2 linked regions of the Homo sapiens genome follow. The protein of the gene in region 1 interacts with the protein of each later gene in a biochemical or structural test. Each region holds a gene or a part of one and is shown in the gene's direction. Other genes may lie near its edges.

What was found.
Region 2: the proteins of GDI2 (region 1) and RAB5A form a complex in vitro, tested with the Homo sapiens proteins (one study listed by BioGRID).

What each region holds. Positions count from the first base shown.
Region 1 is NC_000010.11:5,796,414-5,803,439, reverse strand, and holds part of GDI2 (rab GDP dissociation inhibitor beta), read left to right. Parts: exon of another isoform or gene 1-349; intron 350-2,734; coding exon 2,735-2,842; intron 2,843-6,577; coding exon 6,578-6,677; intron 6,678-7,026. UniProt on the Homo sapiens protein: GDP-dissociation inhibitor preventing the GDP to GTP exchange of most Rab proteins. By keeping these small GTPases in their inactive GDP-bound form regulates intracellular membrane trafficking.
Region 2 is NC_000003.12:19,950,071-19,957,096, forward strand, and holds part of RAB5A (ras-related protein Rab-5A), read left to right. Parts: intron 1-735; 5' UTR 736-828; coding exon 829-991; intron 992-7,026. UniProt on the Homo sapiens protein: The small GTPases Rab are key regulators of intracellular membrane trafficking, from the formation of transport vesicles to their fusion with membranes.

The sequences.
Region 1 (7,026 bases):
CTTTTTTTTTGTTATTGAGATAGGATCTCACTTTGTCACCCAGGCTGAAGTGCAGTGGCCTTATCACGGCTCACTGCACCTTTGCCCTCATGGGTTCAAGTAATCCTCCCACCTCTCAGCCTCTTGAGTAGCAGGGACTACAGGTGCTCACCACCACACCCAGCTAATTTTTGTATTTTTTGCAGAGATAGGGTTTTGCCCTGTTGCCCAGACTGGTCTCCATCCAACTCCTGGGCTTAAGCCATCTGCCTGAGTATATTTTCTAAAACAAAATTGTGAGAAGACTATCAATATTTCACGTTTTCTGCAAATCCTTTAATGTCTGGCTTAATAAAACTGAATTCACATACATGCTTCTGTGTTCAGTTCTGTTGCGATATATTGTCTAGGCTGAAGTATATGAAAACAGGTCTCACACAGACATGTAATTGGAAAAGGGAGGAGTAATTTAAATATAGCCTTTCAGGTTATTGTAGATATTCTTTGGTTTACACAAAAGCACAAGTGGTAGTTTTTAAGAGATAGCAGTATGAAATCTGAAGCCACATTAATGAATGTTTTATATTCTGATATATTAACACCCACTGATCTAGCTTGCACTTTGAATTCCTCTTTTTTCCTCCTGTGTGATTTTGTAATTTCATTCACCCGTTATTTGGAAAACAAGGTTTACTCTGAGTAAAGTGGGTCTTAATGTTGACATGTTTCATTTTACATTATCAAAACATCATATTTGTTAGTATTGTCACTGATAATGTTAGAAAAGTTCTTCATGTATTGGGGAACCTGACGTGTGCCCATGGTGGTAGTTGTAAGTTTTCCATAATTCTTTTTTTTTTTTTGAGATGGAGTCTTGCTCTGACACCAGGCTGGAGTGCAGTGGCGCGATCTCGGCTCACTGCAGCCTCCAACTCCCTGGTTCAAGCGATTCTCCTGCCTCAGCCTCCCGAGTAGCTGGGATTACAGGCATGCGCCACCATGCCCAGCTAAGTTTTGTATTTTTAGTAGAGATGGGGTTTCACCATGTTGGCCAGGATGGTCTCAATCTCCTGACCTTGTGATCCACCCGCCTCGGCCTCTCAAAGTGCTTGGATTACAGGTGTGAGCAGCTGTGCCCGGCCAAGTTTTCGGTAATTCTAATTTTCATTTAAAATTTGACTTATTGGCAGCACGTGTCAGTTATTTTCCTTTAGGTTTTCTTTGAGAAAATGTCAAATACCTAAATCTGAATAATCATAGTTTGTTGGTCAGTTCTTTCAAATAAAAATGATTATTCATAAAAAAAAGCGGCTAGTTCAGCTTACAGATCAGTGGCACAGGTTTTCCCTGAGCTGAAGTGCTGTCTGTATTCTTCCCATTTTTTCACACACAATGTTTAAAAGATGACTATTGAAGGGTATATGTTTATTAAATAACTTTATTAATTCTTTTTGCTACTCAGTCTTGCTCTGTCACCCAGGCTGGAGTGCAGTGGCGTGGTCTCAGCTCACAGCAGCCTCTGCCTCCTGGGTTCAAGCAGTTCTGCCTCAGCCTCCTGAGTTGCTGGAATTACAGGCATGCACCACCATGCCCTGCTAATTTTTGTGTATTTAGTAGAGACAGGGTTTCACCGTATTGCCCAGGCTGGTCTGAAATTCCTGGGTTCAAGCATTACACCCACCTCGGCCTCCCGAAGTGCTGGGATTGCAGGTGTGAGCCACCATGCCTGGCCAATAAAGTTACTTTTTAATGCTTTTATCAAGGACATCCTTTTTTTTGTTCTTGAGATGGAGTTTAGCTCTTGTTGCCCAGGCTGGAGTGCAGTGGTGTGATCTTGGTTCACCACAACCTCTGCCTCCCAGGTTCAAGCAATTCACCTGCCTTGGCCTCTTGAATAGCTAGGATTACAGGCATGTGCCACCATGCCCGGCTAATTTTGTATTTTTACTAGAGATGTGGTTTCTCCATGTTGGTGAGGCTGGTCTTGCTCTTCTGACCTCAGGTGATCCACCTCCCCTGGCTTCCCAAAGTGCTGGGGATTACAGGCGTGAGCCACTGTGCCCACCCTATCAAGGACATCCTTAAATGAATGCCTGGCGATGAAGACTGTAATGATGACTAGTATAGTTTAGAGCCCTGTCTTAATTTGTTTTATCCACCATTGATTTTACATCATCAGTGGAAGTGTCAACACTGAAAAGGTGACTAGGCTGGGCACGATGGCTTACGCCTGTAATCCCAGCACTTTGGGAGGCTGAGGCGGGAGGATCACCTGAGGTCAGGAGTTCAAGACCAGCCTGGCCAACATGGTGAAACCCTGTCTCTGCTAAAAATACAAAAAATTAGCCGGGTGTGGTGGCGGGCACCTGTAATCCCACTTACTCAAGAGGCTGAGGCAGGAGAACTGCTTGAATCCTTGGAGGTAGAGGTTGCAATGAGCTGAGATTGCGCCATTGCACTCCTGCCTGGGCAAGAAGAGTGAAACTCTATCTCAAAAAATAAATAAAAAAAAAAAATTAAAAGGTGACTAATGTCTTAGTGTTATTATGAAACAGTTTTAATCTTGGGATGCATAGGAGCCCACAGACCACACCTGGACCCCTGGTTTCTTAAGGGCTTTCTTCATAAATTATGTCATGTTGCATGAATATAAGTGTAATTACTAAGAGAATGTGTAATGGCAGGCTTGAAAAAAATGATCTGTTTTAAATATGCTGTAGAACTTTCTTTTCAAGGTACTATGCTTTTTCTATAGGAATGTATCCTGTCAGGTATAATGTCAGTGAATGGCAAGAAAGTTCTTCATATGGATCGAAACCCTTACTACGGAGGAGAGAGTGCATCTATAACACCATTGGAAGATGTAAGTGTTAGTCAAATTTCATACGCCTCTCACACTTTGTGAGTATTTCACTTGTGAATCTCTACCTTATTCCTTAGAGATGGTCTTAATTTTGTTTTGTTAAATGGAATATCTGGAGCACTGTTTTTCAGGAGCTTCTGGTTTGAAGCTCATAGAAATTTACATTTTGACTTTTGTTGCTATGTGGAGCAGTTATCTCTTAGCATTAACAGAGAATAGTCTAGGAAGGGAGGGTAGAGGATCGTCTGATGTGCCAGCGCAAGTCCAGTGCTTTCCTCATGGCTTTATTTATTTTCTCAGTCCCTCAAAGATTTTTTTTTTAATCTCCATTTAACATAGTCTCTGTGGGGTTAAAATCTGAGATGGGTTGTAAACCCAAGTTACATGACTACAAAGCTTAGTTCCTTTTGCTATACTGCCTTGTTTCCTACTTTTTTTGAACGTGGACACATAGCATTTCCACAGTGTGTTTTAATATATTGATTGTTTTTCTGCGTGAGGTTTGTTGAACACCTACGTATATGGATATGATGTGTACTGTGTCTTATGGGAGATAGATATCATCAATGACTTTAATCAGTGACTTATTAGACAATACTTACCAAAAAGGATTTTTTTCTATATTCAGTAATACTGAAAAGTTTAAAGAATAATACGATGTATAAAAAAATCTTCCATCAGAGTTCAGCAGTTAAAGTTTGCTGTATTTTTTTCATGTCTCTTTTTTTGTTACTGGTTTTGATCCATTGAAAGTGATAAGACATCATGAGGCTTGAGCAAAATATTTCAGCATTCATCTGCTAAGAATAACATTCTCCTGCATAAGCATAATACCATTATATCATATCCAGAACCATATTCAAATTTCCCAGTGGTCCCAGTAATCTCTTACGTAGCTGTTTGTATTTGGTATAATTTTCTCTTTATTCTCTTATTTATTTTTCTGGAGACAGAATCTTGCTCTGCCGCCCAGGCTGGAGTGCAGTGGCACAGTCTCGCCTCCCTATGGCTTCCACCTTCTGGGTTCAGGTGATTCTTCTGCCTCAGCCTCCCAAGTAGCTGGGATTAAAGGCGTGCACCACCATGCCTGGCTAATTTTTGTATTTTTAGTAGAGACGGGGTTCCACCATGATGGCCAGGCTGGTCTGGAACCCCTGACCTCATGTGATCTGTCTGCCTTGGCCTCCCAAACTGCTGGGATTACAGGCATGAGCCACCACGCCCGAGCGCTTTATTCTTTGTTGTTGTTGTTTGTTTTTAAGAGACAGGGCCTTGCCCTGTTGCCCAGGCTGAAGTGCAGCAGTGCGATCGTAGCTTGCTGTAGCCTTGAACTCCTGGGCTCAAACGATCCTCCTGTATCAGCCTCCTAAGTAGCGGGGCTAAAGATGCATACCACCTGCCTGGCTTATTTTATTTTTTGTAGAGATGGGGTCTCTCTGTGTTGCCCAGGCTGGTCTCAAACTCCTGGCCTCAAGTGATCCTCCTACCTTGGTTTCCCAAAGTGTTGGGATTATAGGTGAGAGCCACCATGCCTGGGCACCTCTTTATTTTCTTAATCTACAAATCTCCTCACAATTTTTTTCTTTTCTTAATTTTGTTTTATTTTATTTTTATTTTTATTTTTTTGAGACAGTCTTGCTCTGTTGTCCAAGCTGATGTGTAGTGGTGCAGTCTCGGCTCACTGCAACCTCCATCTCTTGGGTTCAAGTGATTTTCATGCTCAGCCTTCTGAGTAGCTGGGATTACAGGTGTGGACCACCATGCCTGGCTAATTTTTTGTATTTTTAGTAGAGATGGGGATTTCTTCTTGTTGGCCATGCTGGTCTCGAACTCCTCAAATGATCTGCCTGCCTTGGCCTTCCAAAGTGCTGCGGTTACAGGTGTGAGCCTCTGTGCCTGGCCTAGTATATTTCTTAGCTGATCTTCAATACAATGAGTAAGATTTCTTTTCTTTTTTTTCTCCCCAGATGTATTGAGGGAGTCATGAATTTTTTCTTTTTTTTTTTTTTGAGATGGAGTCTTTCTCTGTCACCCAGGCTGCAGTGCAGTGGCACGATCTTAGCTCAGTGCAACCTCCACCTCCTAGGCTCAAACGATTCTCGTGCCTCAGCCTCCCGAGTAGCTGGAATTACAGGCGTACATCATCACGTCTGGCTAATTTTTTGTATTTCTGGTAGAGGTGGGGTTTCACCATGTTGATCAGGCTGGTCTCGATCTCCTGGTCTCAGGTGATCTGCCTGCCTTGGCCTCACAAAGTGCTGGAATTACAGGCATGAGCCACCGCACCCAGCCAGAATTTTTATTGAATAAATACTTACTAATTTTGCTTATTCTTTTCCACCTTAGCAGTAGGATTCATGAGCTCAAGTGACTGTTCTCTAACTTTATAAGCTTTTTGAAATCTGAGCTTCATTTCAATTCATGTGAATTATAAATTAATTTGAGTATTCTTACCACAAAACATCATAAAAGAACAAAAGGACAATTTTGGAGGTGATGGATATGATTGGTACCTTATGGTGATGTTATGGGTGTACCTTGTGTCTAGACTCACCAAAATGTATGCAGGAAGTAGGCAGTTCTTTATGTATCAGTTATACCTCAGTAAAGCTCAAAAATTATAAATGAACTAGAACTAATTTTAATTATCTTTTCTGATTAGGAAGAATCTAAGGTTTATTTTGAATTCCTTACATAATACAAAAGCAAAATTAAGCCTTTGATAGCTTTTTATTTGGGAGAGAATGAATTTAGATGATTGCTATTTGTCAGTGACACCCTAGTTCTGCATATACAGTCCGTATAGAGAACTATACAGTGTCATTGACAAATAATCTTGTTTTATTTATTTATTTCTTGAGATGGAGTCTTGCTTTGTCACTCAGGCTGGAGTACAGTGGTGCCATCCCAGCTCACTGCAACCTCCACCTCCCAGATTCATGTGATTCTCCACCTCCCAGATTCATGTGATTCTCCTGCCTCAGCCTCTCGAGTAGCTGGGCTTACAGGCACACACCACACCCCGCTAATTTTTTTTTTTTTTTTTTTTTTTTTGAGATGGAGTCTCACTCTGTCACTAGGCTGGAGTGCAGTCACGCTATCTCGGCTCACTGCAACCTCTGCCTCGCATGTTGAAACGATTCTCCTGCCTCAGCCTCCCGAGTAGCTGGGATTACAGGCATCTGCCACCATACCTGGCTAATTTTTGTATTTTCAGTAGAGATGGGGTTTCACCATCTTGGCCTGGCTTTTCTTGTACTCCTGACCTCCTGATCCACCCGCCTCGGCCTCCCAAAGTGTTTGGGATTACAGGCATGAGCCACCATGCTTGGCCAATTTTTGTATTTTTAGTAGAGACGGGGTTTCACTATGTTGGTCAGGCTGGTCTCAAACTCCTGACCTCAAGGGATCCACCCGCCTCATGGATTACAAAGTGCTGGGATTACAGGCATGAGCCATTGCGTCTGGCCTTGTTTTATATTCTTTCTTTTCTGCTAGTGAAAAACCTTACTTCTGCCATATTTGTTAATTTTAACATTTATGAGTTTAGTAATTAATTTACATATATATTGGACCTTGCTAAAAATTTTATCTGATAAAAGATGAAATGCCCTTATACTTTACTAGCATGGTGGTGTTTAGTTATACTAAAAGCACTTAATAAAAAATATGTACATATTGTAATAAAAAATTAAATTTTGTTAACATTATGGCTATGTTTTTCCTTGCTTTTAGTTATACAAAAGATTTAAAATACCAGGATCACCACCCGAGTCAATGGGGAGAGGAAGAGACTGGAATGTTGACTTGATTCCCAAGTTCCTTATGGCTAATGGTAAAGAATTTCTAACTTAAATTTATGACAGTACTTTGATTACAATTTTAATATCAAAACTAACTTTTGACAGAGTACTATTCTGGGTATGAGGAACTGGATTTTGTTGAATGAAACAGCATGGTGAGTAACATGGTCCATTAGATGTCTGGAGTCAATAAGTTAGGAAAGGAAGGAAGGGGTTGTGACTTACTAGTAATTGGTTCTGGAGAAACAAATGATGCTGTGGCATAATACATAACAAGATTGTAAGCCTTTGGCACAGACTTACCTGTTGATGCTTATGACAGTCTTAAATAACTGGGCCTTTTGAAACAGCATTATTTTAATGTTTTTCTAGTTTGTAGGG
Region 2 (7,026 bases), on another chromosome or scaffold:
GTTCGTCTAAAGACTACAAAAAAGTTACAATTATTGTAAGTAAATAAGTCAGTAATAATCACCACATGGAGAACAACTGTTAGCATTTCTGTGTATGGTGTGCTTGAGCAGATGAGGAAACAGTTTTAAGTCTGCCGTTAGGCACACAAACCTGGGAGACTGAAAATATTTGTTGTCCAAAATTACCATTAATTAAATGAAAAATGCATCGTTTAACAGAAAACTTCAAATAATACTAAATTTTAGGATCTGTTCTAAAAGTTTCCCATTTATTAATAACATAATTTTTCTCAAAACAATGTTAATCCAAGTAGCCTGGCTACAGAACTTGAACTCGAGTCATCTCTCAGGTTGCCTGGGTTTGAAACTCGGCTCTGTCACTTCTGTGACAATAACTGTGTGACCTCAATTAAGCTTCTTAACATCTCTGTGCTTGTTTCCTCATTTATAAGGATTGTAATAATATCTCATTTTATAGGATTGTTGAGAAGTTAAGTACTTAAAGCACTGCCTGGCACAAACTTGAAGCTTTGAGGTTAGCCTTTAAAAAAAAAAGTAATTTTGGACTCACATCCTATACCTTTGAATTTCCTTTAAAAGATAGTGACATAATCTAAAGGGCATTGAAGGTCTAGTAGAGTTTAAGATAATCATGCTATAGGCAATATTTAAAGTGATTAATAGTAAATTTGCTTTACTGATTTGTATATTTAATTCATAATTGTTTCTTTACAGGTTTCTTTACCTCCAGAAAGAAGAATATTGGCCCCTTGAATTCTGGAAGTTCATTGAAGAGTCTGAAATTAGGGACTTATTTCAAATTTGGACATGGCTAGTCGAGGCGCAACAAGACCCAACGGGCCAAATACGGGAAATAAAATATGCCAGTTCAAACTAGTACTTCTGGGAGAGTCCGCTGTTGGCAAATCAAGCCTAGTGCTTCGTTTTGTGAAAGGCCAATTTCATGAATTTCAAGAGAGTACCATTGGGGGTGAGATTTTCTTTTTTCCCTGCTTCATTTAATCGAATCATACATTGACAGAAAATATTTTGATGTTCCAATTGTGTGATTATGAATAGCTAAATAAGTCATAGAGTGAAGAAAAGAGCTGTTCAGCTTACCTTAGCTTTAAAACTTGCCTTTATCTTTGTTAAAATGATGTGTTTTTATATTTGATTGTTTGGTTAATCCCTTGTGGTTATATTGTAGCTAAAATACAGATAAAAAACATGAGTAGAATCAGTGTCTCAAGTAATAACATTTGACCTGATACCTATTTCTAGCTAACAACTAGAAGCTTCTTCAAATTAATACAGTACATGTTTGTGCTCAATTATATTGGTTTAAAATGAATAGTAAAAAAGGTAACCTTAAATTCTGATCTATATAACTGAAGTATTTGCAAATAATTATACTTACTTGTAAAATTAAATGTAATTAAATACTGCTAGATGTACTTTTTTTTGGTATTTAAGAGATGGGATCTTGCTGTCGCCTAGGCTGGAGTGCAGTGTCCGGATCATAGCTCACTGCAGACTGCAGCCTGAAACTCTAGGCTCAAATGATCTTCTTGCCTTAGCCTCCCACCAAGTAGTTGGACCTAAGGGTGCATGCCACCATGCCAGGCAAGTTTTTTTTTTTTTTTTTTAAGAGTCAGAGTCTCGCTGTGTTTCCAGGTTGGTCTTGAACTCCTGGCCTCAAGTGAGCCTCCAGCCTCAACCTCCCAGGTAGCTGTGATTACAGGTGCTCCCTGCTGAGATGCATATGTAAGAATGCTCCTAAGCTGAGGGAAGAGAAAAAGTGATTAATGGAAAGGGACATAACAGGAAAATGGAACCTGAAGAAAAAGATGAAAGAAGAAGGGAAAGAGTAGGCACTGACAAGGGTGGTTATGGTGGGACAGAGATGAGGGGAAGGTAAGATGCAGGGTGAAAAGGAGACAACAAACAGTACAGTATTGTCAAGAGAGGACGTGAAATGGGAAAATTGAATTTTAGCTGGACATGGTGGTGCATTCCTGTAGTCCCAGGTATTTGGAGGCTGAGGCAGGATTATTTTAGCTTGGGAGTTCAAGTCTAGCCTGGGCAACATAATGAGAACCCATCTCTTAAAAAAAATTGACTTTAATCAAAGAAACCTATAATTATATAGCAGTGGGACAAGATAGCCTCTTTTGGGCCTCTGTTTCATCTGTGAAATGATGCTTTTCAATTAGATGATGTGTGGCAAGAGCCACACGGTTTGAGATTCACAATATTTTGCAAGTGATATATAATTAAGCAATGCTGTTTTCTAAGGTATTCATGTATATATTTTAACCCCATCCTGTAAAATTAAAGTCAAACTTTGGAAATAAGACAGGTAGATACCAACTGGCATGTGGCAACTTCTTGGAATCTGTCTTTCAGAAGCAAAACTTTATACTGTGCATTTAGTGAATGCTCTTCTGCAAATATACTTGAGAATGTTATTCATAATCTTAGACCCATTCTAGTAAGATAAGTTACAGAAGTCTACTACCTCCTGGCCTTTGTATATCTTGTTAAAATGTTATATTAGAATGTTTTATGTTTTTTCTAATGGCTGAGCATCAGAAAGCATCATGGAGCTTTTATTTTGAGTCAGAAGTCTTGGCATTTTAAAAAATGTTAATACACAATATATTAGACATCTTTGTGATTTTTTTTTTCCCTGAAAGTACATCCACGTGTGATTTTGTTGTTGTTGTTGTTATTGTTAATACATTATATCCAGTTTAATAATGAAATACTACTTCTCAAGAAGGCTTTGCTTCCTCCAGAAGTGATTTGGTCAAAGCTAACTGTCCCATCTAGTAGGAAAAGTTTAAAGACTGCTAGATCATGTCCACCCACTTATTTCACTGTTAATGGAAGCATTTCCCAAAGTATATGTGCATTCTGGGTTAAATAACCTGGGCCACGTAGGTTTGGGACTTACTATATGCTACTCTTCTCCTCTCTCTTTATTATTTTATTAAAACAATAAAAACTCTGAAGTACTGTAGTATAGGACTTAATTCCTGGGGAGCTTTGCAAGAGCTTAAGATTAGAATTTTTATCTTGTTTTGGATAATGCACTTCTAAGTTTATTTTTTCCTAATGATAGCTCAAGAAGGATGTTTAAAAGAAAAATGTAACCCCATATCCTGTGTATCATAAATATATCTCTGATATGTGTGTATCTCTATATAATCTCCATGTAACACCAGTTAGATTGTCTAGATTTCATTAATGAATTTTTCATAAAGATTTTCATTTCTATGTGTAGAGCTTCCTGTTTAAAAACAAAAAGGAATTTGCATCCAAATTTCTGTTAATCCTTTTTTTTTTTTTTTTTGGAGACAAGGTCTCTGTCGCCCAGGCTGGAGTGCAGTGGTGTAGCCCTGGCTCACTGCAACCTCCGCTTCCCAGGATCAAGCAATTCTCATGCCTCAGCCCCCCAAGTAGCTGGGACTACAGGCGCAAGCCACCACTCCTGGCCAATTTTTGTATTTTTAGTAGAGATGGGGTTTCACCATGTCGGTCGGGTTGGTCTTGAACTCCTGGCCTCAAGTGATCTGCCTACCTCGGGCTCTCCAAGTGCTGGGATTACAGGCATGAGCCACTGCCCCTGGCCCAACTTTCTGTTAATCTTTATTGGATACTTTTTCACTGTGCTGACCCCATGTGAATACTATTCAGGAGGTATGACAGTACCATTATGGTTATAGCTGTGGACACTATTCTTTTATGCTCTGTACTCATAGCTCTTCACCTTTAGGAACTAGAGTAGATGTAAAGCATTTAAGAATTTTAAGGTTTGAGCTATTTCATGATCAACCTGAAAGGGCCATAACTTGTAGGTAATACGTATTTTTGTTTTGACTGTCATGTGGTAGAAGTTACCTGAAAAATGAAGCCAACCAACTCTTTTGCATTTCAACTGTTGGTTTATTTTTTTTGAGACGGAATTTCACTACGTGGCCCAGGTTGGAGTGCAGTGGTGTGATCTAGGTTGACTGCAACCTCTACTTCCCAGGTTCAGGCAGTTCTCCTGCCTCAGCCTCCTGAGTAGCTGGGATTACAGGCCCACACCACCAATCCCAGTGAACTTTTGTATTTTTAGTAGAGACAGGGTTTTGCCATCTTGGCCAGGCTGGTCTCAGACTCCTGACCTCAAGTGATCCACCTGCCTCGGCCTCCCAAAGTGCTGGAATTATAGGCGTGAACCTCCACGCCTGGCCTCAACTGTTTAATTTTTCACTTTACTGTTTATATCTCCTAACATGAGTTATTGTTCTGAAGCACTCAAAATTTTAATCTCTATTTGATTGTGTTCGAAGGTGGATATCATATGTTACACTCTTGATTTGTGGATTCTGGATTCATTAAGAATATCAAGATTTCTTCTGTAATTTGTGTGGTTCTTCCTAAATACAATAACTTGATTTACGAATTCCTGTTGCGCTGTGTGCGGTGGCTTGCATCTGTAATCCCAGCACTTTGGGAAGCTGAGGTGGGCAGATCGCTTGAGTCCAGGAGTTTGAGACCAGCCTGGCCAACATAGCAAAACCCCGTCTTTACAAAAAATACGAAAATTAACCGGGCATGGTGGCACACACCTGTAGTCCCAGCTACTGAGAAGGCTGAAATGGGAGAATTGCTTGAACTGAAGAGGCGGAGGTTACAGTGAGCCGAGACTGCACCACCACACTCCAGCCTGGGTGACAGTGAGAACCCTGTCTCAAAAACAAAACAAAACAAAGAATCCCTGTTGCCTCACCATACTTCATGCATCCTACCCCTATAGCACTTCTGATGAAATTGCGTGCCGTAGATTTAGCAATTTAGAGAATTCTAGCTTGTTTGTATGGGTTTAAAGTTTGCATGACATTTATGTTTCTATTGTTGGTCTAAAGTTAGCCCAGAGATTAGCAGGGAGCAGTAGGCTCAGAGAGTTGTCTTCCTTCTTTACTTGGTACTGCATCTCTAGGCTTGGTAGCTCTTCAGTAAATACTCTCAAAAAATACTTATTTTTAAGAAGACATTTATGTGATATTTATAAACAAATTAATCCTCAGTGGTTAGAATATGCAGTGAAATAGCAAGCAGACAATCCTTTTTTTCTCTTCTGAGAAAAGTGCTTCATACCACAGTTACAATTTTGTATGCACTAATCAAAAAATGTGTTATAAACTCTAAAGTTTAGATGATGGAACTGTACATGAAAATAACATTCCTCTTGCTGGTTCTGTGATTTTTGTACATTAGCTTAGAACAGTGGTCCTCAAAGAGCGTTCCCACTTCCAGAAGTAGCTGCATTAACTAGGAACTTGTTAAAATGTAGAATCCCGTGTTGAATCAAAACATTTGGGTGGGACCAACAATCTAGGTTTTAATAAGTTTTCCAGATGATTCTAATGGCATGTTACGTTTGAGTAGTTGATTTTACATTGGTACTAACATTGATTCACCCATACATGGAATAATTGGGGGGTTTTTTTGAGGTGTGGTGTTTGTCAGATTTTTAAAAACATTGTTGACTGGGCGCGGTAGCTCATACCTGTAATCCCAACACTTTGGGAGGCTGAGGCGGGCGGATCACGAGGTCAGGAGTTCGAGACCAGCTTGCCAATGTGATGAAACCCTGTCTCTGCTAAAAATACAAAAATTAGCCAGGCATGGTGGCGTGCGCCTGTAGTCCCAGCTACTTGGGAGGCTGAGGCAGGAGATTCGCTTGAACCCAGGAGGCGGAGGAGGTTGTTGCAATGAGCCGAGATCATGCCATTGCACTCCAGCCTGGGTGTCTCAGCGAGACTCCGTCTTAAAAAAAAAATTGTTCATGCAACTAACCTAGTTTGAGAATTACATGTATTATGTACTGCTCACATTACATGTTATCTGTATCTCTTTATAGGAGAATGCCTTCCTGTTAGCCACCTGCCAGACATCTTTAGGAAAGTATGATCCCTCTGTCCAATCAAGAGTATTCTGCTTTTTCTCTACTTAGGGAGTACCCATAGTTTTCAGTCATCTGTACCACTGCTGCTCTCCTTTCTTGTCACAAATGATCAAGGCCTGATAATACACAAAATTAATTAAGAAATTTAGTGTAGGCCGGGCGCAGTGGCTCATGCCTGTAATCCCAGCACTTTGGGAGGGTGCCAGCACACTGGCAGATCACGAGGTCAGGAGTTCGAGACCAGCCTGGCCAACATGGTAAAAATACCAGAATTAGCTAGGCGTGGTGGTGGGTGCCTATAACCCCAGCTACTCAGGATGCTGAGGCAGGAGAAACATTTGAACCCAGGAAGCGGAGGTTGCAGTGAGCCGAGATCGCGCCATTGCACTCCAGCCTGGGCGACAGGGCGAGACTCCGTCTCAAAAAAAAGGAAATTTAGTGCAATTATTAACTCTTAAGTGAAGTGCTGTTTCTACTTACATATTTAACATCCATCTAAATTGGTTAGCATGGCCAACTAGTTGTTTTTAGTCTAAAACAACCTGTAACAGGAATAAAAGTTACTGTTAAAATGAAGAAAAACAAGGCTTATTTCAAAGTTATTATTAACATACTATTTTACCTAACAATTTATGGCCAAGTCATTCTAAAGAATAAACTATTGTGGTTAAGAGAGACTGTATCCAGATTGAAGTTTTTACCACAATGCCTGGCACAGTAAAAGGTTTATTAAATTATAGCTATTACAGTTACCATCACCACTGTTAACTTTTGGCTGAATCGTTTTGTCATTGTTGATATTTTTGTTGTTTGGTCATGACATACTATTATCTTGAGATGGTAGCTGTTACACCTAGTGCATAGCGTTTGATTTAGAAAATTTGAAGATTTGAAAAATTTTGTGTTTTTTTTCCTTTTTTTTTTTTTTTTTAAACAGCCTGCTCTGTTGCCCAGGCTGGTGTACAGTGGTGGCATCAAAGCTCACTGCAGCCTTGACGTGGCCTCAAGTGGTCCTCCCAGGTAGCTGGGACTGACTATAGGCATGCACCCCACACTTGGCTAAT